Linked DNA regions of Homo sapiens: region 2 is linked to region 1. The links come from fine-mapping of genetic effects on gene expression. A gene starts in region 1. The other region holds a variant in brackets. All regions are shown on one strand. Distances are from middle to middle. Region 1 holds the start of ZNF20 (zinc finger protein 20). Region 2 overlaps ZNF844 (zinc finger protein 844).

Region 1 (12,118 bases):
TTACACTCTAGCCTGGGTTAAAGGGCAAGACCCTGACTCAGAAGCAATAAAATTGACAAAGACAGTTAGTACTTGTAAAATAGTTTACCTGAAAATAGTGTTGGCCGGGCGCCCAGGTGTATGCCTGTAATCCTAATGCTTTAAGAGGCTGAGGTGGGCAGATTGCTTGAGTCTAGGAGTTTGAGACCAGCCAGGGAAATGTGACAAAACCCCATCTCTAGCAAATATACAAAAATTAGCCAGGCACGATGGTATGCTTGTAGCCTCAGGTAATCAGGAGGCTGAAGTGGCAGGACGGCTTCAGATCGGGAGATGGAGGTTGCAGTGAGCTGAGATCTCACCACCGCACTCCAGCCTGGATGACAGAGTGAGACCCTATCTCAAAAAATGTTTAAAAAGTACTAAGAAGCCCTATATCAATATTATCTTTCTTGATAACAGGTATAGCTGGGCCATCTTGTAGAGCATGTGTGGTCTGTTCATGTTCAGACAGGGCAGAAAGCCTACACATTGCTGTACAGTGTTAGAAATACAAGTGCAATGACTTGTTAATGAATATCAAATCAGTGATAAAGGAACCCATTATGATATACTTCTCATTGTTCACAGAGGTCTTATGGGAGAGAGACTCTTAGAAAGTAAGAAAGATCATCAGCATGGAGAAATTTTGACCCAGGTTCCAGATGACATGCTGAAGAAGAAAACTCCCCGAGTAAAATCATGTGGAGAAGTCAGCGTGGGTCATGCATCCCTTAATAGGCACCACAGAGCTGACACTGGACACAAGCCATATGAGTATCAGGAATATGGACAGAAGCCATATAAATGTACATACTGTAAGAAAGCCTTCAGTGATCTCCCCTACTTTCGAACACATGAATGGGCTCACACTGGGGGGAAACCTTATGATTGTGAGGAATGTGGAAAAAGCTTTATTTCCCGTTCAAGCATTCGAAGACACAGGATAATGCACAGTGGAGATGGACCCTACAAATGTAACTTTTGTGGGAAAGCCTTGATGTGTCTCAGTTTGTATCTTATCCACAAACGAACTCACACTGGAGAGAAACCATATGAATGTAAACAGTGTGGTAAAGCCTTTAGTCATTCTGGTAGCCTTCGAATACATGAAAGAACTCACACTGGAGAGAAGCCTTATGAATGCAGTGAGTGTGGGAAAGCATTCCATAGTTCCACATGCCTCCATGCACATAAAATAACTCACACTGGGGAGAAGCCGTATGAATGTAAACAGTGTGGGAAAGCCTTTGTTTCTTTCAATTCCGTTCGATATCATGAAAGAACTCACACTGGAGAGAAGCCCTATGAATGTAAGCAATGTGGGAAAGCCTTCAGATCTGCCTCGCACCTTCGAACACATGGAAGGACTCACACTGGAGAGAAACCCTATGAATGTAAACAATGTGGTAAAGCCTTTGGATGTGCCTCGAGCGTTAAAATCCATGAAAGGACTCACACTGGAGAAAAACCCTGTAGCTCCAACACTTCGAAAGGCCAAGGCGAGAAGATTGCTTAATTCACATAAGATTCCTAGAAGCCACCGAATCCAATCATGGTAAAAATGTGTTTCCCTCAAATCATGGGAACCATCGCAAAATTATTCTGAAGCTTCTGCAGTCACTGTCATTTGACAGCATTCAGAAATAAATGCCAGTAGCCCAGGAGCAAAAATTTTTGGGAGTAGTTTAGCTGGGGCCTCACTCAGATACCTAGGACACAGAGTTGGAAATAACTCTTAAGAGAGACACACCTCCAGTAAGACCTTAAGACAGTTCTGTCATAAAAAAAATACGAGGTTTGGCCGGGTGCAGTGGCTCATGCCTATAATCCCAGCACTTTGGGAGGCCGAGGCAGGCGGACCACGAGGTCAGTAGTTCGAGACCAGCCTGGTCAATATGGTGAAACCCCATCTCTACTAAAAAATACAAAAATTAGCCAGGTGTGGTGGCGCCTGTAGTCCCAGCTACTCAGGAGGCTGAGGCAGGAGAATTGCTTGAATACAGGAGGTGGAGGTTGCAGTGAGCTAAGATTGCGCCACTGCACTCCAGCCTGGGTGACAGAGTGAGACTCCGTCTCAAAATAATAATAATAATAATAAGGTTAGCCCAGCAAAGTGGCAGGTATATATATACAGGAAGGTCAGAAAAATCTTTTCCCTCCTATTGAAAGCCCAATACCTAAGTGGCAAGCCCTCATTTTAAGAAACTCACTAAAGGGATAACGGAAGTGCCATTGTCAGACTCACTGCCTCAGAAAGCTTTATCAAAACAAAAGGCTAAAGTTCCTATTCAAAAATATCCTATAATAAATGGCTGGCTATCGGGTACACTACGTATTTTATGCCATTCGTTCTCACGAGTTTTCTTTTTTTTTTTTTTTGAGACAGAGTCGGGCTCTGTCTCCCAGGCTGGAGTGCAGTTGCACATTCTCAGCCCACTGCAACCTCTGCCTCCTGGGTTCAAGCGATTCTTCTGCCTCAGTCTCCCGAGTAGCTGGCTTTACAGGCATGAGCCACCATGCCCAGCCTCTAAACTCTTTTTTTTTTTTTTTTTTTTTTTTTTTTTTTTTTTTGAGACAGAGTCTCACTCTGTTGCCCAGGCTGGAGTGTGTTGGTGTGAGCTCGGCTCAGTGCAACTTCCACCTCCTGGCTTCCCGGGTAGCTGGGATTACGGGCACCCACCACCACGCTAGGCTAATTTTTTATATTTTTAGTAGAGACAGGATTTCACCATGTTGGTCAGACTGGTCTTAAACTCCTGACCTCAAGTGACCCACACCAGTGTCTCCCAAAGTGCTGGGATTACAGGTGTGAGCCACTGCACCCGGCCTTCTAATCTTTTTCCAGCCTTCAAATTTTTTTTTTTTTTTTTTTTGATACAGAGTCTTGCTCCAGGTTGGAGTGCAGTGGTGTGCTGTCGGCTCACTGCAGCCTCCAACTCCCAGGTTCAAGCGATTCTCCTTTCTCAGCCTCCTGAGTAGCTGGGACTATAGGCGTGTGCCCCCACACCCAGCTAATTTTTGTATTTTTAGTAGAGACAGGGTTTCACCATGTTGACCAGGCTGGTCTCGAACTTCTGACCTCAGGTGATCCACCTGCCTTGGCCTCCCAAAGTGCTGGGATTACAGGCGTTAGCCACTGCGCCCGGCCATTTTTGTATTTTTAGTAGAGACGGGTTTCTCCATGTTGGCCAAGCTGGTCTTGAACTCCTGACCTCAAGTGACCCACCTGCCTCAGCCTCCCAAAATGCTGGGCTTACAGGTGTGAGCTACTGCGCCAGGCCTAATATCTTTTTTTTTTTTTGAGACAGAGTCTTGTTCTGTGGCCAGGCTGGAGTGCAGTGGTGCAATCTTGGCTCACTGCAACCTCCGCCTCCCAGGTTCAAGAGATTCTCCTGCCTCAGCCTCCTGAGTAGCTGGGACTACAGGCATGCGCCACCACGCCCAGCTAATTTTTGTATTTTTAGTAGAGATGGGGTTTCACCATGTTGGCCAGGATGGTCTCAATCTCTTGACCTCATGATCTGCCACCTTGGGCTCCCAAAGTGCTGGGATTATAGGCACCACGCCTGGCCCTAATCTCTTCTCAAAGTACTTTTTTCTTTAATGAATGTCTTAAATAAAAACTTTTTTCTAACCACAAACTTTTTTTTAAATTATTTTATTATGTAATTTTTTTTTAGAGAGTTGGTCTTGCTGTTTGGACCCGGCTGGAGTGCAGTGATATTCACAAGTGTGATCTTAGTGCATGAGAGCTTCATATTCCTGGGCTCACAATCCTTCTACCTCAGCCTGCCAAGTAGCTGTCACTACAGGTACCAGCTGCTGTGCCTGGCTTCCACCTTTTTTTTTTTTTTTTCTTTAATCAGTTCCTTTTAAAGACCAAAGAAAACCTGTCCTCTTGTGTGGCCTGAGTTGATCTATGAACATTATTCACTATGACCCAGAAAATCCCACGAAGTCGTGCATGTTAGAAGGATGAAACCCTCATGTTCACTGTAAACTGTGAAGGTGCTCAGGCCATCACAGGTATGCCTATATGAAAAGCCACCAAGTATCTGAAATATTTTCTTTTACAGAAATTATGTGTACCATTTCAGTCTTAGAAAGTGGAGTTGGTCGCTGTACGCAAGACAGACATTGGGGCTGGACTCACCATCAGTGGCCCCGAAAAGGTACTGAAATTTGCTTACAAGTGCAGAGTTATGCTGAACTTAAGGGTATAGATGTAGATTCCCTGGTTATTGAGCACATCCAGGGAAAAGGCACCCATAATGTACCACCTGACTTACAGAACTCATGGGCAGATGAACCCATCCACAAACTCCCCTGCCACATCCAGATGATGCTTAGTGAAAAGAAACACCTTGTTCCAAAAGCAGAAAAGGAGGATGCACGGAAGAAAAAGATACCCCAGAAGAAACATAAACTTAAGAGACAAACAAATTCAGCCAAAAGAAAATGCAAATAAAAGTTCAAAACAAAACAAAACAAAAAAACCTCTAAAATTCATAAAACACAAAATGACAAACTCTATTAAATATGCCCCTATGATATCTCTTAGATAAAAGTTGGCCGTAATAGAGAAAATGAAGATAGGTGTTGGTGACTGGCAGATTCTGGGTCTACGATGAATCAGAGAAGGATGGTTTTCACTTTGTTTTACATTTTTTTAATGCTTGATGTTGACTTGGTAGAAAGATGATAATAAAGAGATTCTTCTGTCTATGTGTTTCTTTTAGATTACTCATGTGGACTGAAGAAAAAAAATTAAATTTGTTAAAGAAAGTGAGTTTGATTTAGGATTGTGACTGAGGACAATAGCCTGGAAGCAGTTCTGACAGATGGCTGCTATGTAATATTTTGGTTCACAGTTTATAAGAGACATGTGGGCCCTGTGCTCTATCTTGTTTTTTCTTCAAAGCATAATTCTGGAGAGCTGGAGAGTCCCAGAGTCAGGAATGTTATAAAGTCAGGCTGGAAACCAGAAATAAGTAACATGACTAAACATTTGTGTGTTTTTTTGTTTTGTTTTGAGACAGAGTCTCGCTCTATTGCCCAGGCTGTAGTGCAGTGGTGCAATCTCGGCTCTCTGCAACCTCAGCCTCTTTGATACAAACGATTCTTCTGCCTCAGTCTCCCGAGTAGCTGGGATTACAGGTGGGCTCTACCACACCCGGCTAATTTTTGTATTTTTAGTAGAGACGGGATTTCACCATGTTGGTCACGCTGGTCTCCAACTCCTGATCTCAGGTGATCCAGCCACCTCGCCCTCCCAAAGTGCTGGGATTACAGGCTTGAGCCACAGCGCCCAGCCACTACTGCCTCACTTTCATGCAGTTAAATAATCTTGGACACTTCCTCCTCGACTTTATACATACACACTGGAGGAGAGCTTTGCTCGTGTGTTATTCTCGCAGTGGGATTGAGGATGTTTGTCTCATGGAAACTGATGAATGATGTGAGAAGCAGGTGAATAACCTGCAGGGGGCAGCAGAGACCGACGCCAGGGACGGGACGCTGAGGCTAGTATGGATCCTGCCAAGGAGTGAAGTGGAGTTCTGGGTGCTTCCTGGGCAGCCGCCCTCCCCTGCAGGTGGCTTGCAGCTGCTCAGAGCAGATCCAGAAAGAGTGTGGGTTCTGACATGCTGCAGCGCCCTGGAAAGCAGGAGACCCACGTGCAGGTGCACTTCAGGAGTTCTGTCCTTTCTGCGGCTGTACATCTGGAATCTGGGGCGGTTTTCGGGAGCAGTGTTTTGGGTTTGACATGCATAGAGTCCCTGGGGTCAGACTGTAATTTGCATATCTGAAGAAAATCCGTAAAGATCAAGTTCAGGGAAATAACTGTTTGGGACCTCTCCTGGAGAAGGGGCTTATGCAGTTGACAGTTTATTTAGGTCAGAAGCTTAAAATCACCAAGTGAGAGTTTTCTGCCGATGAAGATGAAGGTCTGGAAGGAGGGAGAGTTTCCACACTGTGAGGTGGGGTGAGATGTGTGAAAGCCTTGGCCATGTCTCATCCCTAATTCCGGGCCCCTGAAGGACAACTGCCTCTCCTTCTTGGTGCAGTCGTGCCTGGCCTGATCTGGGCTCCCCTTCCTGCTCTGAGGTCAGCACATCGCTCCATTGGACACTCAGTCTGGAATTCCCTGCACACACTTACAACCCTGTGCAGGACGAAGAAGCACTGACAGCCCATTGAATGAGGAAGAAGATAGTGCCCTGTGTAAAAATCAGGAGCAAATTTGGCTGAAAAGAAAATATCCAATGACCAGGGCTCAGGGAAGGAGTTGTCCCTTAGAGAGAAGCTGTGGCTAGAACCGATCAGTCCGGCTTTGCAGGGCTCGTTACCCAGGGCTTCTGCCGTCACTCAGTTCTGAGGGGGCGGGGCCTTGTACCTTGTCCAATCAGAAGCGCCGGGGCGGAGCCCGGCCAACGGTCCGTCCGGAAGGAGGAGGCCCATTCCAGCTTCTACTTTTGTTGCTATGCAGGTTGTTGTCGGGATACCAGATTTCCTACTCCGAGAGGCCCCGGGTCCCTCTGCCACAACTTCTGTCGCTCTGCCGCCTGCACCGTGACCCGCACTATTCACGGGAGCCCTAGAGAGGACACCGGGACACCCAGAAGCCGGGAAATGGTGAGTGTATGGGGCCGGAGTCCCCAGACGGGGGAGGGGCTGGGTGGAACCGGCCGGAAGCGGCTGTGGTGGGATCTGGGCCTCCTCGCCGCGCCTCCTGGATCTGGGACCCGAATCCCTCTGTCTCAGCTCGTCCCTGCGTCCCCTCGGCCGCAGGGTGCGGCTGGGCCGGCAGCCGGGACCCCGGGCGTCCTCCTGTTCTGTTCCTGCGCGGGCGACTGTGGGCCCCGACCCTGGAGCCCTCTCTGGGCAGCTCCGCGCCTGCAGCCCCGCGTCTCTTCAGATTTTGCGGGGACCACGGGAGGGTCATGGGGGAATCCTGCGGATTTTTTTTTCTGTTAAAGAGTTTGGGCCGGGCGCGGTGGACCATGCTTGTAATCCCAGCACTTTGGGAGGCCGAGGCTTGCGGATCACGAAGTCAGGAGATCGAGACCATCCAGGCTAACACAGTGAAACCCCGTCTCTACTAAAAATACAAAAAATTAGCCGGGCATGGTGGCATGCGCCTGTAGTCCCCGCTACTCAGGAGGCTGAAGCAGGAGAATCGCATGACCCCAGGAGACGAAGGTTGCAGTGAGCCGAGATCACGCCACTGCACTCCAACCTAGGGGACAGAGCGAGATTCCATCTCAAAAAAAAAAAAAAATTTAAAGAGTTTGAGCAAACAGCGATTCATGAGTGAGAAACGCCCAGTCATGATTTGTGGTTTTGGTACCAGAAAGTTTTAAGAAGAATTGCATTTTGTTAACGGTGGAGGGGGTCCAGGTTCTTGGCGTCTTGAACAAAGAATTGGACAAAACGCACAAAGCAAGGAAGGAATGAAGGGATTTAACACTCCACAGTGTGCAAGCGGGGCTGAGCACAGGGGCTCAAAGGCCCCGTTACAGAATTTTTGGGAGTTTAAATACCCCCTGGAGGATTCCATTGGTTACTTGGGGTATACTCTATGTAAAAGGAGAGGATGAAGTAAGGTTATAAAATCATTTACTTGGCTTACGCCCTATGGAGTAGGTATTTCCTTTCATAGCTGAAGTTTGAATAGGCCTTATGTTCCCTGCGTCCAGACCCTATTTTCCTGCCTCAATTTGAGTTTGATTTTGGTGTCCTTAGGTAGTTTCTTATAGCACTAAACACACTTCAGTCTAATTGCTGCTGCTTTAAATTTTTTCACACTGTCTATAGGGACTGGCTTCCTCCTGCATTTTCCTAATGTATGGGTCTCAAATCCTCCACCCTGCTACCCCGCCCTAACTCTTCAGCAGTTTGCAGTAACATCTTAAATTTTCAATTACTTTTCCGCATCTCCAAACATTAACTCCCCTTCTCCAACTCACAGTATTATCAACTTTCTTTTTTTTTTGAGACGGAGTTTCGCTCTTGTTGCCCAGGCTGGAATGCAATGGCATGATCTTGGCTCATTGCAACCTCTGCCTCCCGGGTTCAAGTGATTCTCCTGCCTCAGCCTCCTGTATCAACTTTCTTTATTGTAGAGTATATTTCTTCATCCTTTCTTTCACATAGATGCAGTATTTTAGTGGTTTATCATCTTTTCACAAGGTCATGGATAACTTTTTTTAAAATATTTGTGTTCTGTTTCTGAACATTTCACATAGAATAGAGAATAACCACTTGATACTCCAGTGAAAAACCTCTGTTCCTCTCCTCTTATCTTCGTAAGGCACAGACACCATCTCAGAATGTCTTTGGGTTGTTTCCTTTTTTTTTTTTTTTTTTGAGAGAAAGTCTCTCTTTGTAACCCAGGCTGAATTGAAGTGGCGTGGTCTTGGCTCACTGCAACCTCCGCCTCCCAGGTTCAGGTGATTCTCCTGCCCTCAGTCTCCCGAGTAGCTGGGTTTACAGGTATGCGCCACCATACCCCATGTATTTTAAGTAGAGATGGGGTTTCACCATGTTGGTCAGGCTGGTCTCGAACTCCTGAGCTCAAATGATCTGCCTGCCTCAGCCTCCCAAAGTGCTGGAATTTTACAGGCGTGAGCCACCGTGCCTGGCCTGTTTCCTTTTTGAAAACTTTACAGGGTGATGTGTCTTCAGGAGTCCCAATCTATCTTTTCCTGGTCCTGGGTTTCAGAACCGCCTGGGGCTGAACCAAAATGCCCACAGCTCCCATCTCTCCTGGCCTACTGAATATCAGCCCCTGTGTCAGTCCTCCCAGAGGATAGCCTGAGGCAGGGTGTGGGATCTCCCAAAGGAGCAACTGAATTTCCCAAATGGGAGGAGACTCCTGGTACACTCTTCATCTAGATAGCCAACCCCTTGGGATGCTCAGTTTTTCTCCCCCAGTCCCAGCTTCCATTATTTGGAGACACATAGCTGGTCAGCCAGTTGGATGTTGCTATTAAGGGAAAGGTGTAGGTGAAGTGAGCCACAGCAGAGTCATCTCAACAAAGCCATAAAGCCATGACATAACAGTGCATTATCACATCCCAGACAGATGAGGGCAGCACACCTTGCAGGGCAACACAGAGTGGGGGGAACATCCAGGATGCACATTCAACCAGCAGGTGGGGAGAAAGACAGACAGGGACTTTTGGGCCAGAGTTTTTCTTGGGGTCCAGGGCAATGCCCAAGGAGGTTTCTCTTAGGGAGTTGTTTCTGATAGATTTGGAGCAAGCAGGTGCTAGTTCTGTGAAGTCAGGCTGTGATTAACAGGTGGTCTGTGCCATCCACGTGGGTATAAGGGTCAGTGGGGCAAGTCAAGTTGGTCTGTCTAGCTTTTCCACAGTGAGGTCGTCACCAGGAGGCAGCTGTGTAAGTCACATATGTGGGTTGAGCACATGCAGGAACTGGGAGGAGGTGGATAACTGGAAACTGTTGAGGTCAAGTGCAGCTTTCTTCTTCTTCTTTTTTTTTTTTTTTTCTGAGACAGTCTCTTTCTGTCGCCCAGGCTGGAGTGAAGTGGCGCTCTCTCAGCTCACTGCAACCGCCGCTTCCCGAGTTCAAGCGATTCTCCTGCCTCAGCCTCCCGAGTAGCTGGGATTACAGGCACGCACACACCCGGCTAATTTTTGTGTTTTTTAGTAGAGAGGGAGTTTCACCATGTTGGCCAGACTGGTCTTGAACTCCTCACCTGAAGTGATTGGCCTGCCTTGGCCTCCCAAAGTGCTGGGATTACAGGCATGAGCCACTACACACGGCTTGAGTACGGGTTTCTTCTGTTATAAGAAAGTGAAACCCATAATGAAAATGCATGGTAAGGTAACATAAGAAGTCACGGTAACAGGCAACTCTAGAATTAATTCATATGGAGATGATGGGCTTCAAAGATTGTTTGTTCTCCTGTAGGTAACCATCTGTCCCTGTTCCTTCTGGTAAGTGAGGACCACTTGCATAATTGGCTGGTGATACCTGCTTTGTCGTGGTTTCACTATTTTCAGAATCTGCTGTTTTCCATTAGTCTATCTTTCCATCTGTTAATACCATTTTCTCTTGATTAGTATAGATTTTATTTATTTTATTTTATTTTATTTTTTCGAGACGGAGTTTCACTCTTGTTGCCCAGGCTGGAGTGCAATGGTGCAATCTCAGCTCACCGCAATCTCTGCCTCCCGGGTTCAAGTGATTCTCCTGCCTCAGCCTCCCAAGTAGCTGGGATTACAGGCATGTGCCAACATGCCCAGCTAATTGTGTATTTTTTTTTTTAATAGAGACAGGGTTTCTCCATGTTGGTCAGGCTGGTTTCGAACTCCCGACCTCAGGTGATCCGCCCACCTTGGCCTCCCAAAGTGCTGGGATTATAGGCATGAGCCACTGCGCCTGGCCTATTTATTTTATTATTATTTTTTTGAGATGGAGTATTGCTTTGTCGCCCAGGCCGGAGTGCAGTGACGCGATCTCGGCCCACTGTAACCTCTACCTCCTGGGTTCAAGTAATTCTCCTACCTCAGCCTCCCGAGTAGCTGGGACTACAGGCACCCACCACCACGCCTGGCTGATTTTTATATTTTTAGTAGGGACGGGTTTCTCCATGTTGGCCAGGCTGGTCTCAAACTCCTGACCTCAAGTGATCTGCCTGCCTCAGCCTCCCAAAGTGCTGGGATTACAGGCGTGAGCCACCGCGACTGGCCAAAGACCCTCTCTCTTAACAAAAAAAGGGTTGGTTTGTGGGAGGACGTGAGTATAGACAGAAAGTAAGAGGTGTGATGACCAAGTCATGGGATAAATGTTTGGAGTCCACAGTATCATGAGAACTTCTTAGGAATAAAGTATAGGCCTCCAGGGCTGTTAGTCTTACCTGTCCTCTTTTATATATGTGAGATGTTTCAGGATTCAGTGGCCTTTGAGGATGTGGCTGTCAGCTTCACCCAGGAGGAGTGGGCTTTGCTGGATCCTTCCCAGAAGAATCTCTACAGGGATGTGATGCAGGAAACCTTCAAGAACCTGACCTCTGTAGGTAAGAATGACAATATTACTTCCCAGTGAATTAGAGAACAAATGCTTCTAGCTCATCAATGCTGTTCATTGATTTGGAACATGGACAAAAAATACTTTGATGAATAAATCAGGCATGGCTACCATGTACCATGAATACAGAATCTAATGATTTTTAAATAAATTCATACTAATTCTGGATCTGTGTTTTCTCCGGGTCTGTGTTTTAGGAAAAACATGGAAAGTTCAGAACATTGAAGATGAGTACAAAAATCCCAGGAGAAATCTAAGGTAATTTTCTCTCGCAAGACAAGGCAATGCCTCTAGAAAATCTTAAAATGTGAGAAAATAGGCCGGGTACAGTGGCTCACGCCTGTAATCCCAGCACTTTGGGAGGTCGAGGTGGGTGAATCCCAAGGTCAGGAGTTCGAGACCAGCCCGGCCAATATGGTGAAACCCTGTCTCTACTAAAAATACAAAAAAATTAGCTGGGCGTGGTGGCACATGCCTGTAGTCCCAGCTACTTGGGAGGCTGAGGCAGGAGAATTGCTTGAATCTGGGAGGCAGAGCTTGCAGTGAGCCGAGATCGCACCACTGCACTCCAGCCTGGGTGACAGAGCGAGACTCCGTCTCAAAAAAAAAAAAAAAGTGAGAAAATGTTAAAAAGAAGCAAAAGAAATAAGCCCAGTATCAAATTTATGTATTCATAGAAAGTTTTCCTAAAAACATATGTTTAAATGTAACATACGCTGGGCTGGGCACTGTTGCGCATACCCCCAAATGCCAGTCCTTTGGGGCTTTCAGACCAAAGGATTGCTGGAGGCCAGGAGTTTGAGGCTGCAGTGAGCCATGTTGGTACCACTACACTCCAATTTGGACAACAGGGTGAGTTGAGACCCCAACTCAAAAAAAAAGACGCACATGTTTAGTATTTGTAAAATAGTTTACTTGAAAATAGGATTACAAAGCCCCATAGAAATACTAATTTTAAAAAAATATATATACCCAGACCATCTTGTAGAGCATATAGTCCATTAATATTCAAATGATTCAGACAGAGCAGAAAGCTGACACT
Region 2 (12,118 bases), 63 kb after region 1:
GTTAGATCACATCTCCACAGAAAATTTTTAAAATCTGGCAGGACATGGTGGCTCACGCCTGTAATCCCAGTAATTTGGGAGGCCGAGGTGGATGGATCACTTGAAGCTAGGAGTTTGAGACCATCCTGGCCAACATGGTGAAACCTCATCTCTACTAAAAATACAAAAATGAGCCAGGCATGGTGGCGTGGCAGCTTCCTGTAATCCCAGCTACTTGGGAGGCTGAGGCAGGAGAATCGCTTGAATCCAGAAGGTGGAGGTTGCAGTGAGCAGAGACTGTGCCAGTGTAGACTCCATCTTAAAAAAAAAAACAAAACAGTTACCTGGGCATGGTGGTGTATGCTTGTAGTCCCACATATGTTGGAGGCTGAGGCGAGAGAATCACTTGAGCCCAAGAGTTAAGGATGCAGTGAGCTATGATCCCACCATTATACCCTAGCCTGAACAACCACCGTGTCTGGCCCAAATTTAGTAAATGTTTCTGAATAAAACATTGTGATACTGCAAACAAACTGGATGATAGGCTGGGCACGATGGCTCATGCCTGTAATCCCAGCACTTTGGGAGGCTGAAGTGGGCGGATTACTTGAGGTTGGGAATTTGAGACCAGCCTGACCAACATGGTGAAACCTCATCTCTACTAAAAATACAAAATTAGCCAGGTGTGGTGGTACAGACATGTTATCCCAGCTACTCAGGAGGCTGATGCAAGAGAATCGCTTGAACGTGGGAGGTGGAGGTTGTGGTGAGCCAACATCGTGGCATTGCACTCCAGCCTGGGCAACAAAAGCGAAACTCCATCTCAAAAAAACAAAACAAAACAAAAACTGGATGATGAAATGTTGGGTCAGGTGTGAATTATAAGTTTTTTTGAGGAAAATTTAAAGTTCACTTATCTTAAAAAGGATTTTTCCTGTTTTGTTATTTGACCTTCCTTCATGAAAAAATACAAAAATAAAATATGCATATTTAAAATATGCATATTTTTTGGCCAGGCGTGGTGGCTCACGCCTGTAATCCCACCACTTCGGGAGGCTGAGGTGAGTGGATTACCTGAGGTCAGGAGTCTAAGACCAGCCTGACCAACATAGTGAAACCCTGTCTTTACTAAAAATATAAAAGTTAGCTGGGTGTAGTGGCGAGTGCCTGTAATCCCAGCTGCTCAGTAGTTCAAAAAAAAAAAAAAAAAAGATAAGGCAAAAATGGGTCTAGAAGTCCAGGAGCTACCTCCTCTCACCACAAGGCCAAGTCTTTTCTTTGTTTGCTTTTTGAGACGGTGTTTTGCTCTTGTTACCCAGTCTGGAGTGCAATGGCGTGACCTCAGTTCACTGCAACCTCCACCTCTTGGGTTCAAGTGATTCTTCTGCCTCAGCCTCCCAAGTAGCTGGGATTACAGGCATGTGCCACTATACCCGACTAATTTTTGCGTTTTCAGTAGAGACGGGGTTTTTCCATGTTGGTCAGACTGGTCTCGAACTCCCAACCTCAGGTGATCCACCCGCCTCAGCCTTCCAAAGTGCTGGGATTATAGGCATGAGCCACCACGCCCGGCCACAAGGCCAAGTCTTATGCCATTGGAAAGACACATGTCATACACCTGCAATGTGAGACAATGCTCTTCAGTGACCATGACGGATCAAGACAAAACAAGGACACTCTGTAACCATGTCTCAAAATAGTATAGAAGAAAACATATTTCAAATTATCAAACTGAGCAAATTTTTTTCAGTAATGTGACTCATTTGTAATTCTCATATATCTCACTGTCATTTATGGCTTTTGATCATATTTATTACTATATTACACCCTCTTTGACAACAAGTATGGTACTGGTGGTCTTTGGCAAGACGTCACTGAGAACATTGAGTTAACTTTTGGTACAATGAATGAATGAAAAGTTAGGACTAAGAGGCTGGGCGTGGTGGCTTACCCATGTAATCCCAGCACTTTGGGAGGCTAAGGCAGGTGGGTCACAAGGTCAAGAATTCTAAACCAGCCTGACCAACATGGTGAAACCCCATCTCTACTAAAAATACAAAAATTAGCCGGGTGTGGTGACCGGCGCCTGTCACCCCAGCTACTTGGGAGGCTGAGGCAGGAGAATCGCTTGAACCCAGGAGGCAGAGGTTGCAGTGAGTGGAGATCGCACCACTGCACTCAAGCCTGCGCGACAGAGCGAGACTGCGTCTCAAAAAAAAAAAAAAAGAAAAAGAAAAAGAAAAAAAGAAAAGTTAGGACTAAGATAAAAAATTTAAGGATAGCCAGGCGCGGTAGCTCACGCCTGTAATCCCAGCACTTTGGGAGGGCGAGGTGGGTGGATCACAAGGTCAGGAGATTGAGACCTTCCTGGCTAACACGGTGAAACCCTGTCTCTACTAAAAAAAATATACAAAAAAATTAGCCGGGCGTGGTGGCAGGCAACTGTAGTCCCAGCTACTTGGGAGGCTGAGGCAGGAGAATGGCGTGAACCCGGGAGGCAGAGCTTGCAGTGAGCCGAGATCATGCCACTGCACTCCAGCCTGGGCGACAGAGTGAGACTCCGTCTCAAAAAAAACAAACAAACAAACAACAAAAAAATTTAAGGATATAAGTGAGTATAAAAAGTAAAATTTTTTTACATGAGAAAAAGCATGCCTGGCATTCTATTCACATGGTAATATTGACTCACAATGTCCAACCAATAACTTGGCAACATTATGAACTTGATCTAATACATATTTTAATATAGCTACTGAATTAATTAAGAAAGAATAATGTTTGTCAGTATACAGTTGTGGAAAAGTTCAACTATTTCTATGACACATGTACAGAAATCTTGGTTGCCAAAAAAATTATTGTTTTTAATCAAATATAATCAAACATAATTGAAAATAAATGGAGACATTACATTCAGAAATGAAACACAGGAAACTCAAAACTTCCTGGGAGGAGGAAGGTGCTTATTCTCACCTTCCTGAAAGCCCTGGGTGAGACCAGTCACTGCAGCAGAGGAAGAAGCTCCTATCTAGTTGGACTGGACAAAAGCATAGTAGCTGTGAGGCTACAAGATAAGGGTCAGTAACAGCAGGAACAAAGGTGCTTGCCAAACAAATCGCATCTCATACTGACTCAATATACAAAGTAGGGGAATTGAACATCAGAGAACAATCTCACCCATGACAGTCTGCATTAGCTCTCTGGTAAAGACATTATACCTAAAGAAACACCAGGCCAGGCACAGTGGATCACGCCTATAATCCCAGCATTTTGAAAGGCCAAGACAGACGGATCACTTGAGGTCAGGAGTTTAAGACCAGCTTGCTCAACATGGTGAAACCCCATCTCTACTAAAAATACAAAAATTTAGCCATGCGTGGTGGTGTGCACCTGTAATCCTGACTACTCAGGTGGCTGAGACACCAGAATCACTTGAAACCAGGAGGCCCAGATTGCAATGAGCCAGGATAATGCCACTCTACTCCAGCCTGGGTGACAGAGAGAGACCTTGTCTCAAAAAAAAAGAAAAAGAAAAACTGTATTACAGATGGGGCTTTTTCATTGTTCTATTCTTTCAGTCTTTTAAAAAAATATCTTAGTCTTTATTTCTCTTCAATTTGCCCTTAACCACTGATGGATCTTTAATGTGGAGCTTCTGAAGACACCTTTACCCAAAGGCCCACACCTCTGAGCAAATTTTGAGGACATTCTTGATTGGCAAGCCAAAGATTCAGGAAAAAATGGGCTGGGAGCAGGGAGTCAGCCTGTATGGATGTGGCACCTGTTTGGTGCCTCTAAAATGTGACTGATGACTTCCTCTTGTCTGCCTTTGAAATTGCATGTAAGATAGGACACTGGTGAATTGTATTATGACATCCTCCAACTCCATTTCTAAATTTTATTGTCCTGTCAGACTTCTCTTTTTTTTTTTTTTTTTTTTGAGACGGAGTCTTGCTCTGTCGCCGCTGGAGTGCAGTGGCGCGATCTCGGTTCACTGCAAGCTCTGCCTCCTGGATTCACGCCATTCTCCTGCTTCAGCCTCCCGAGTAGCTGGGACTACAGGCGCCCACCACCACGCCCAGCTAGTTTTTTTGTATTTTTTAGTAGAGACGGGGTTTCACCGTGTCAGCCAGGATGGTCTTGATCTCCTGACCTCGTGATCCGCCCACCTCAGCCTCCCAAAGTGCTGGGATTACAGGCGTGAGCCACTGTGTCCGGCCAGGCCTCTCTTCTTAATTCAACAGTCAGTTATCTCAGAGGGTTTCTCTCTAGTGTCTCTTCCTGTTTGAAAGGAAGTGGGACAACTGAATGCTTCCTCAATTTTTTTTTTTTTTTTTTTTGAGATGGAGTTTCACTCTTGTTGCCCAGGCTGAAGTGCAATGCTGTGATCTTGGCTCACTGCAACCTCCGCCTCCCAGGTTCAAGCAATTCTCCTGCCTCAGTCTCCCATGTAGCTGGGATTACAGGCATGTGCCACCATGCCCATCTAATTTTTTGTATTTTTAGTAGCGATGGGGTTTTGCCATGTTAGCCAGGCTGGTCTCGAACTCCTGACCTCAGGTGATCTGCCTGCCTTGGTCTCCCAAAGTGCTGGGATTACAGGCGTGAACCACCGTGCCGGCCCCTTGCTTTTTTTTTCAGATGGAGTCTCACTCTGCTGGGGTACAGTGGCGTAATCTCGGGTCACTGCAACATCCAGCTCCTGGGTTCAAGTGATTCTCCTGCCTCAGCCTCCTGAGTAGCTGGGACTACAGGCACGCGCCACCATGCCTGGCTAATTTTTGTATTTTTGGTAGAGACAGGGTTTCACTATGTTGCCCAGGCTGGTATTGAACTCCTGACCTCAAGTGATCCACCTGCCTTAGCCTCTGGAAGTGCTGGAATTACAGGTAAGCTACCGTGCACAGCAATCAATTTCTTATAATAGGATTTCTCTCATATATTAATAGTATGAATTGCTTCATTTCAGGAATGAAGGCTTTTCACATTCCCTTCATTTACAGGGTTTCTCTTCAGCGAGTTCTTTCATGGCTACAAAAGGATCTGATACAATGGAATGCTTTTCCATATTGCTTGCATTCAGAGGGTCTCTCTTTATTGTGCATCCTTTTATGTCTTTGAAAATGAATGGGGAGAAGGCCGGGTGCAGTGGCTCATGCCTGTATGCACAGCACTTTGGGAGGCTGAGGCAGGTGGATCACCTGAGGTCAGGAGTTCGAGACGAACCTGGCCAACATAGTGAAGCCCCGTCTCTACTAAAAATACAAAAATTAGCTGGGCGTGGTGGCGGTCACCTGTAATCCCAGCTACTTGGGAGGCTGGGGCAGGAGAATCACTTGAACCCAGGAGGTGGAGGTGGCAGTGAACAGAGATGGAACCACTGTTCTCAGCCTCAGCGACAGAGCAAGACTCCGTCTCAAAAAAAAAGAAATGAACGGGGAGAGAGGCCTATCTGTCATGTGCAATACCATGTGGGTTTCAATGCCACTCAGATCAGAAAATGCTTTCCCACGCAGCTTACATTCATAGGGTTTTCCTCTAGTGTAAGTCCTTTTGTGAATTATACCCTCTTTGAAGACAGGTATGCCACTGTGGGATATGGCACAAAGTCACTCTGAAGAACATGAGATAACTTTTGGTATTATGAATGAACAAAAAATTAGGACCAAGATAAATGTTCTAAGTATATAAGCATGAAAATTAAAATTTACATGAGGAAAAA[G/A]ATGCCTGGGATTTTGTCCACTTGGTAATATTGACTCACAATGTCCAAAAAATAATGTGGTAACATAAACTTGATCTAATGCATGATGGCACTGAGATATTTTATTATGGCTTCTCAATTAATTAAATAGAGAATAACAGCTGGGTGCAGTGGCTCATGCCTGTCATCCCAGCACTTTGGGAGGCTAAGGCAGGTGGATCACTTCAGGTCAGGAGTTCAAGACCAGTGTGGCCAATAGGGTGAGACCTCATCTCTACTAAAAATATAAAAATTAGCCAAGTGTGGTGGTGCACACCTGTAATCCTAGGAATCTTTTTCCTCAGGAGCCTGAGGCAGGAGAATTGCTTGAACCCGGAGGCGAGATCATGCCACTGCACTCCAGCCTGGGCAACAGAACAAGACTCATCTCAAACAACAACAAAAAATAGAGAATAACGGCCGGGCACGGTGGCTCATACCTGTAATCCCAGCACTTTGGGAGACTGAGGCGGGCAGATCACGAGGTCAGGAGATTGAGACCATCCTGGCTAACACGATGAAACTCCGTCTCTACTAAAAAATACAAAAAATCAGCCGGGTGTGGTGGCAGGCACCTGTAGTCCCAGCTACTCAGGAGACTGAGGCAGGAGAATGGCGTGAACCCAGGAGGTGGAGCTTGCAGTGAGCTGAGATCACGCCACTGCACTCCAGCCTGGGTGACAGAGCGAGACTCTGTCTCAAAAAGAAAAAAAAAATACAGAATAACATGTTAGTATGCAGCTGCTATAAACATTTAATTGTTTACATTCATTGTCTGTATTTGAAGGTTCTTAGCAAATCTGAAGGCTTTCCCATATTGCTTATATTCATAGGGTTGCTCTACAGTGTGAGTCCTTTCATGCACCAGAAGTTGTGAGACAGATCTGTAGGCTTTCCCACATTGCTTACATTCATAGGGTTTCTCGCCAGTGTGAATCTTTCTATGCATCTGAAGTTGAGTGGCAGATCTGAAGGCTTTACCACACTGCTTACATTCATAGGGTTTCTCTCCAGTGTGAGTCCTTTCATGATATCGAAGGCTACCGGAAGAAATGAAGGCTTTCCCACACTGCTTACATTCATAGTGTTTCTCTCTGGTGTGGGTCTTTTCATGATACTGAAATGCAGTAGAAGACATGAAGGCTTTACCACACTGCTTACACTCATACTGTTTCTCTCCAGTGTGAGTCCTTTCATGGTACTGAATGGAACTGAAAGAAATAAAGGCTTTTCCACATTGCTTACACTCATAGGGTTTCTCTCCAGTGTGAGTCCTTTCATGTCTACGAATGGCAGTGGAAGAAATGAAGGCTTTACCACACTGCTTACACTCATAGGGTTTCTCTCCAGTGTGAATCCTTTTATGACACTGAAAGGAACCAGAAGAAGTGAAGGCTTTGCCACATTCCTTGCATTCATACGGTTTCACTCCAGTGTGAGCCCTTTTATGTCTACGAAAGGAACCAGGCAAACTGAATGCTTTCCCACAATCCTTACATTAATATGGTTTCTCTCCAGTGTGCATCCTTTTGTGTATACGCAAAGAAGAAAAATAATTGAACGCTTTTCCGCATTCCTTACATTCATAGGGTTTCTCTCCAGGGTGTGTTCTTGCATGTACTCGAAGGATCTTGGCAGATATGAATGCTTTGTCACACTCTTTACATTCATAGGCATTCTGTCCTCTGTGCATTGTTGCATGTATTTGAAAGGAAGAGAAATTGTTGAATGCTTTTCCATATTCCTTATAGGGTTTCTCTCCAGGGTGTGTCTTTTCATGAATTTGAAGGTTTCTGACAGATCCAAAGGTTTTTTCACATTGTTTAGATTCATACAGTTGCTTTCCAGTGTGAGTCCTTTCATGCATTTGAAGGTGTGAGGCAGATGTGAAGGCTTTCCCACATTGCTTACACTCATAGGGTTTCTCTCCAGTGTGAGTCCTTTCATGATATCGAAAGGAAGTGGAAAAAATGAAGGCTTTACCACACTGCTTACATTCATAGGGTTTCTCTTGAGTGTGAGTCCTTCCATGCATTTGAAGGTGTGAGGCAGATCTGAAGGCTTTCCCACATTGCTTACACTCATACGGTTTCTCTCCAGTGTGAGTCCTTTCATGATATCGAAAGGAAGTGGAAGAAATGAAGGCTTTACTACACTGCTTACATTCATAGGGTTTCTCTCCAGTGTGAGTCCTTTCATGATAGTGAAAGGAACTGGAACGATTGAAGGCTTTACCACAGTGCTTGCATTCATAAGGTTTCTCTCCAGTGTGAGTTCTTTCATGTCTTCAAAACGAACTGGGAGAATCAAAGGCTTTTCCACAGTCTTACATTTATAAGGTCTCATTCTAGTGTGCATTTTCATGTGTCTTTGAAAGTTAAGATAAGATAATGCTTTCCCACATTGTTTACATTCACAGGGCTTTTTCCCAGAGTGGGTCACTTCATGTCTACAAAGATAACTGGGACACTTGAATGCTTTCCCACATTTGGTACATTCATAAGCCTTCTCCTCACTGTGAGTTCTTTCATGTATTTGAAAGGAATGGAACCATCTGAAGGCTTTTCCACATTGTTTGCATTCATATGGCTTCTCTCCAGTGTGAGTTCTTCTATGTTCATAAAGGGAATTGGGACTACCGAATGCTTTCCCACATTCCTTACATTCATAAGGCTTCTCTCCAGTGTGAGTTCTTTCATGTATTTGAAGGGAAGTTGAATAACTAAAGGCTTTACCACATTGTTTACATTTATATGGTTTCTCTCCAGTGTGAACTCGTTCATGTATAAGATATATGCTGAGACAAGGGCAGGCTTTCCCACAAAACTTACATTTATAAGTTCCATCTCCATTGTGCATTATCATGTGTCTTTGAATGCTTGAATGGGATATGAAGGTTTTTCCACATTCTTTACAATCATAGAGTTTTTCTCCAGTGTGAGCCTTTTCTTGCATTTGAAAGGAGGGGTGACATCTGAAGGCTTTCTTACGTTGTTGACACTTATATGGCTCCTGTCCATATTCCTGATACTCAGACGGCTTGTGTGCAGTGTCAGCTCTAATGTGCCTATTAAGGGAAGAATGACCCACGAAGACTTCTCCACACACACTGCTTTCACATGATTTTACTCCAGGAGAAGTTTTTTTGTTCAGTGTGTCATCTGGAATCTGGCTAGAAGTTTCTCCACAATGATTTTCTTCTGTATTTTCATCAACTCTCTCTCCCAGAAGACTTCTGTGAAAAATGAGAAACACATTATTGAAGGTTTGTTTATAAGTGATTTGATGTTTATTAACAAGGATTACACTTGCATTTTATTTTATTTTATTTTATTTTATTATTAATATACTTTAAGTTTTAGGGTACATGTGCACAACGTGCAGGTTTGTTACATATGTATACATGTCCCATTTGGTGTGCTGCACCCATTAACTCGTCATTTAGCATTAGGTATATCTCCTAATGCTATCCCTCCCCACTGAACTTGCACTTTCAACATTATCCAGGAAAGTGTAGGCTTTCTACCCTGTCTAAATTGTTGGAAGGTGACTGGACCATATGGCTATAAGATGGCCTATCTATACGTATTATTTTTAAAAATCATATGTTTAAAAAAGAAAAACACCATATGAGAATTCTTCATAATATTTCCATGTAGACTATTTTACAAATACTAAACTTCTATATCATTTTCTTGAGTCAGGGTCACCATATAGCCCAGGCTGGAGTGCAGTGGCATCATCATGGTTCACAGCACCCTTGAACTCCTGGACTCAAGTGATCTTCCTGCCTCAGCCTTCGATGTAGCTAGGACTACAGGTATATGCCACAATGTATAGCTAGTTCTTTGTTTGAGATGAAGTCTCGCCATTTTGCTCAGGCTCTTCTCAAACTCCAGGCCTCTAGCAATCCTCCCACCTCCAACTCCCAAACAGTTGAAATTACAGGTGTGAGCCACTGTGCCCAGCCTAGATCACATTTAAATGTAGGTTTTTAGAGTGAATATTTTAAGAGTAAATAAATTTAATGCTAGGCATATTTCCTTTATTTGCTTCTTCTTAACATATTCTCGCATTCTGAGATTTTCTAGAGAGACATTGCTTTGTCTCGTGAGTTTAAATCACCTTAGATTATTCCTGGGATTTTTGTACTGATCTTCAATGTTCTGGTCTTTCCATTTTTCTCCTAAAATACAGAATCAGAAAAAGAATCCTGAATTAAAATAAAATTATGAAAAAATGATTAGATTCTATGTTCACGGGACATTAGAGCCATACCTCATTTATTCATCAAAGTATTGCCTGTCCATATTCCAAATCAAGGAATAGCATTAATGAGCTAGAAACACTTGTCTCATTCACTGGGGGACGTAATACTGTCATTCTTACCTATGGAGGCCAGATTCCTCAAGGTTTCCTGCATCACTTCTCTGTAGAGATTCTTCTGGGAAGGATCCAGCAAAGACCACTCCTCCTGGGTGAAGTTCACAGCCACATCCTCGAAAGCCACCAAGTCCTGAAACATCCCACATGTATAGAGGAGGATGGGTGAGACTGACAGCACTGGGGGTCTATACCCTCTTCCTAAGAAGTTCCCATGATGCTGTGGACTCCAAACATTTATTCTATTTCTTGGTCATCTGACCCATTACTCTCTGTCTACACTTACTTTCTTCTCTAAAGCAATTCTGATGCTGGAACAGAACTAAGCAATAAACGAACAGCAGAATAGAAAAATGTGTCTTTTCATGGAATCCAGGGAGAAAGGTGCGCTGCCTGGGCTGCTCTTAATGTCTGTTTGTAGCATGGGTCTATAGCACCTGTCATAACACAGTCCTCTAAATTCACCTGCAGAAAATGTTAACATTAGCAGTCCTGAGGCTATATATCCTTGAAAATGCCTGTTCACAAAGTTTAACCATTGAAGATTACCTGGAAGGGGGATTTTATTCTGATTGAAGCAGCAGACAACAAAAGCAAAAAAAAAAAACTGGATTTTGCAAGGGGTTCAACCAACCCAACTGATAAGAGAGGCAGAACTATCTAAATAAAAAACTCATGAATAGAAATTTTGTGAAAAACAGTACTGTGGGCCGGGCGCGGTGGCTCACACCTGTAATCCCAGGACTTTGGAAGGCTGAGGCGTGCGGATCGCTTGAGATCAGGAGTTCGAGACCAGCCTCAACATGGAGAAACCCTGTCTCTACTAAAAATACAAAATTAGCTGGGCGTGGTGGTGTATGCCTGTAATCCCAGGTACTCGGGAGGCTGAGGCAGGAGAATTGCTTTAACCTGGCAGGCGGAGGTTGCGGTGAGCTGAGATCGCACCATTGCACTCCAGCCTGGGCAACAAAAGCGAAACTCTGTCTCAAAAAAAAAAAGCAGACTGTGGTAGGAAAACTTAAATTGTAATTGATGAAATGCTGAAGGCTGAATGGAGACAAAGTTCAGGGATAAAAACTCCAGTGCACCCACTCTTAACAAAAAGGCAAATATTTATCAAAATTTAAAAGTTCTGTCTATGAGGGGACACCATAAACAGATGGAAAAGGCACCCCATGATGCTGGAGCAAATATTGGAAAGTCATATATCTGGAAAAGTCTCAATATTCAGAAAATATAATGAATTCTTACATTCAACTAAAAAGAAAAGAAAAATCAAGGCCAGGCGCGGTGGCTCATGCCTGTAATCCCAGCACTTTGGGAGGCCGAGGTGGGTGGATCACCTGAGGTCAGGAGCTCAAGACCAGCCTGGTCAACATGGTGAAACCCTGTCTCTACTAAAAATACAAAAAATTAGCCAGGCATGGTGGTGGGTGCCTGTAATCCTAGCTACTCAGGAGGCTGGGGCCAGAGAATTGCTTGAAGCTGGGAGGCGGAGGTTGCAGTGAGCGTAGATCGCGCCATTGCACTTCAGCCTGGGCAACAACACTGAGACTTTATCTCAAAAAAAAAGAAAAAGAAAAAAGAAAAATCAAACCACCTCAAATATAAAGTTTGGAAAAAACGTTGAGAAATTGGAACCCATGTGCTCTGACCAAAGGATTGCAAAATGGCTCAATCTTTATGGAAAACAGTATGGTGGTGCCTGAAAAACTAGCAAAAAAAAAAAAAATTTTCTTCCAGCAACCCATTTCTGGGTCTATTTATATTCAATTCATATAAATTGAAAGTTGGATCTTTGAAGAAATATTTGAAAACCACTGTTCACAATAGCCAAGAGATGGATCAATCCAAATGTCCACTGATGGCTAAATGGATAAAGAAAACGTGGTATGCATGTACTTACAATGGGATAGTATTTAGTCTTACAAAATAACTTTCTGTCCCATGCTACAAAAAGCATGAAAATTCAGGATTCAGCTGGATGCAGTGGCTCATGCCCGTAATCCCAGCACTTTG

The links. PIP is the estimated chance that this variant, and not a neighbour inherited with it, causes the effect.
Region 2: its variant is the best candidate, but not a certain one, in a credible set for the expression of ZNF20 in cerebellum (GTEx, PIP 0.51).

Annotation. Positions count from the first base shown.
Region 1 is chr19:12,134,716-12,146,833 of GRCh38, reverse strand. ZNF20 (zinc finger protein 20) reads left to right here and starts at 6,484. Exons shown (of 4, transcript NM_021143.4): 1 at 6,484-6,654; 2 at 10,930-11,065; 3 at 11,274-11,334. The coding sequence starts at 6,652. It overlaps ZNF625 (zinc finger protein 625), which reads left to right. Exons shown (of 4, transcript NM_145233.4): 4 at 610-1,944. The coding sequence ends at 1,537. It overlaps ZNF625-ZNF20 (ZNF625-ZNF20 readthrough (NMD candidate)), which reads left to right. Exons shown (of 8, transcript NR_037802.1): 4 at 4,119-4,193; 5 at 6,509-6,654; 6 at 10,930-11,065; 7 at 11,274-11,334. It also overlaps the pseudogene RPL17P47. RefSeq lists silencers at 6,698-6,907, 8,613-8,715.
Region 2 is chr19:12,072,145-12,084,262 of GRCh38, reverse strand. It overlaps ZNF844 (zinc finger protein 844), which reads right to left. Exons shown (of 4, transcript NM_001136501.3): 2 at 10,106-10,232; 3 at 9,842-9,902; 4 at 2,698-8,951. The coding sequence ends at 7,142. Among named protein-coding and RNA genes, the nearest start is that of ZNF844, 13 kb to the right of the region's middle. The variant G/A (reference allele first, on the strand shown) is at 5,699.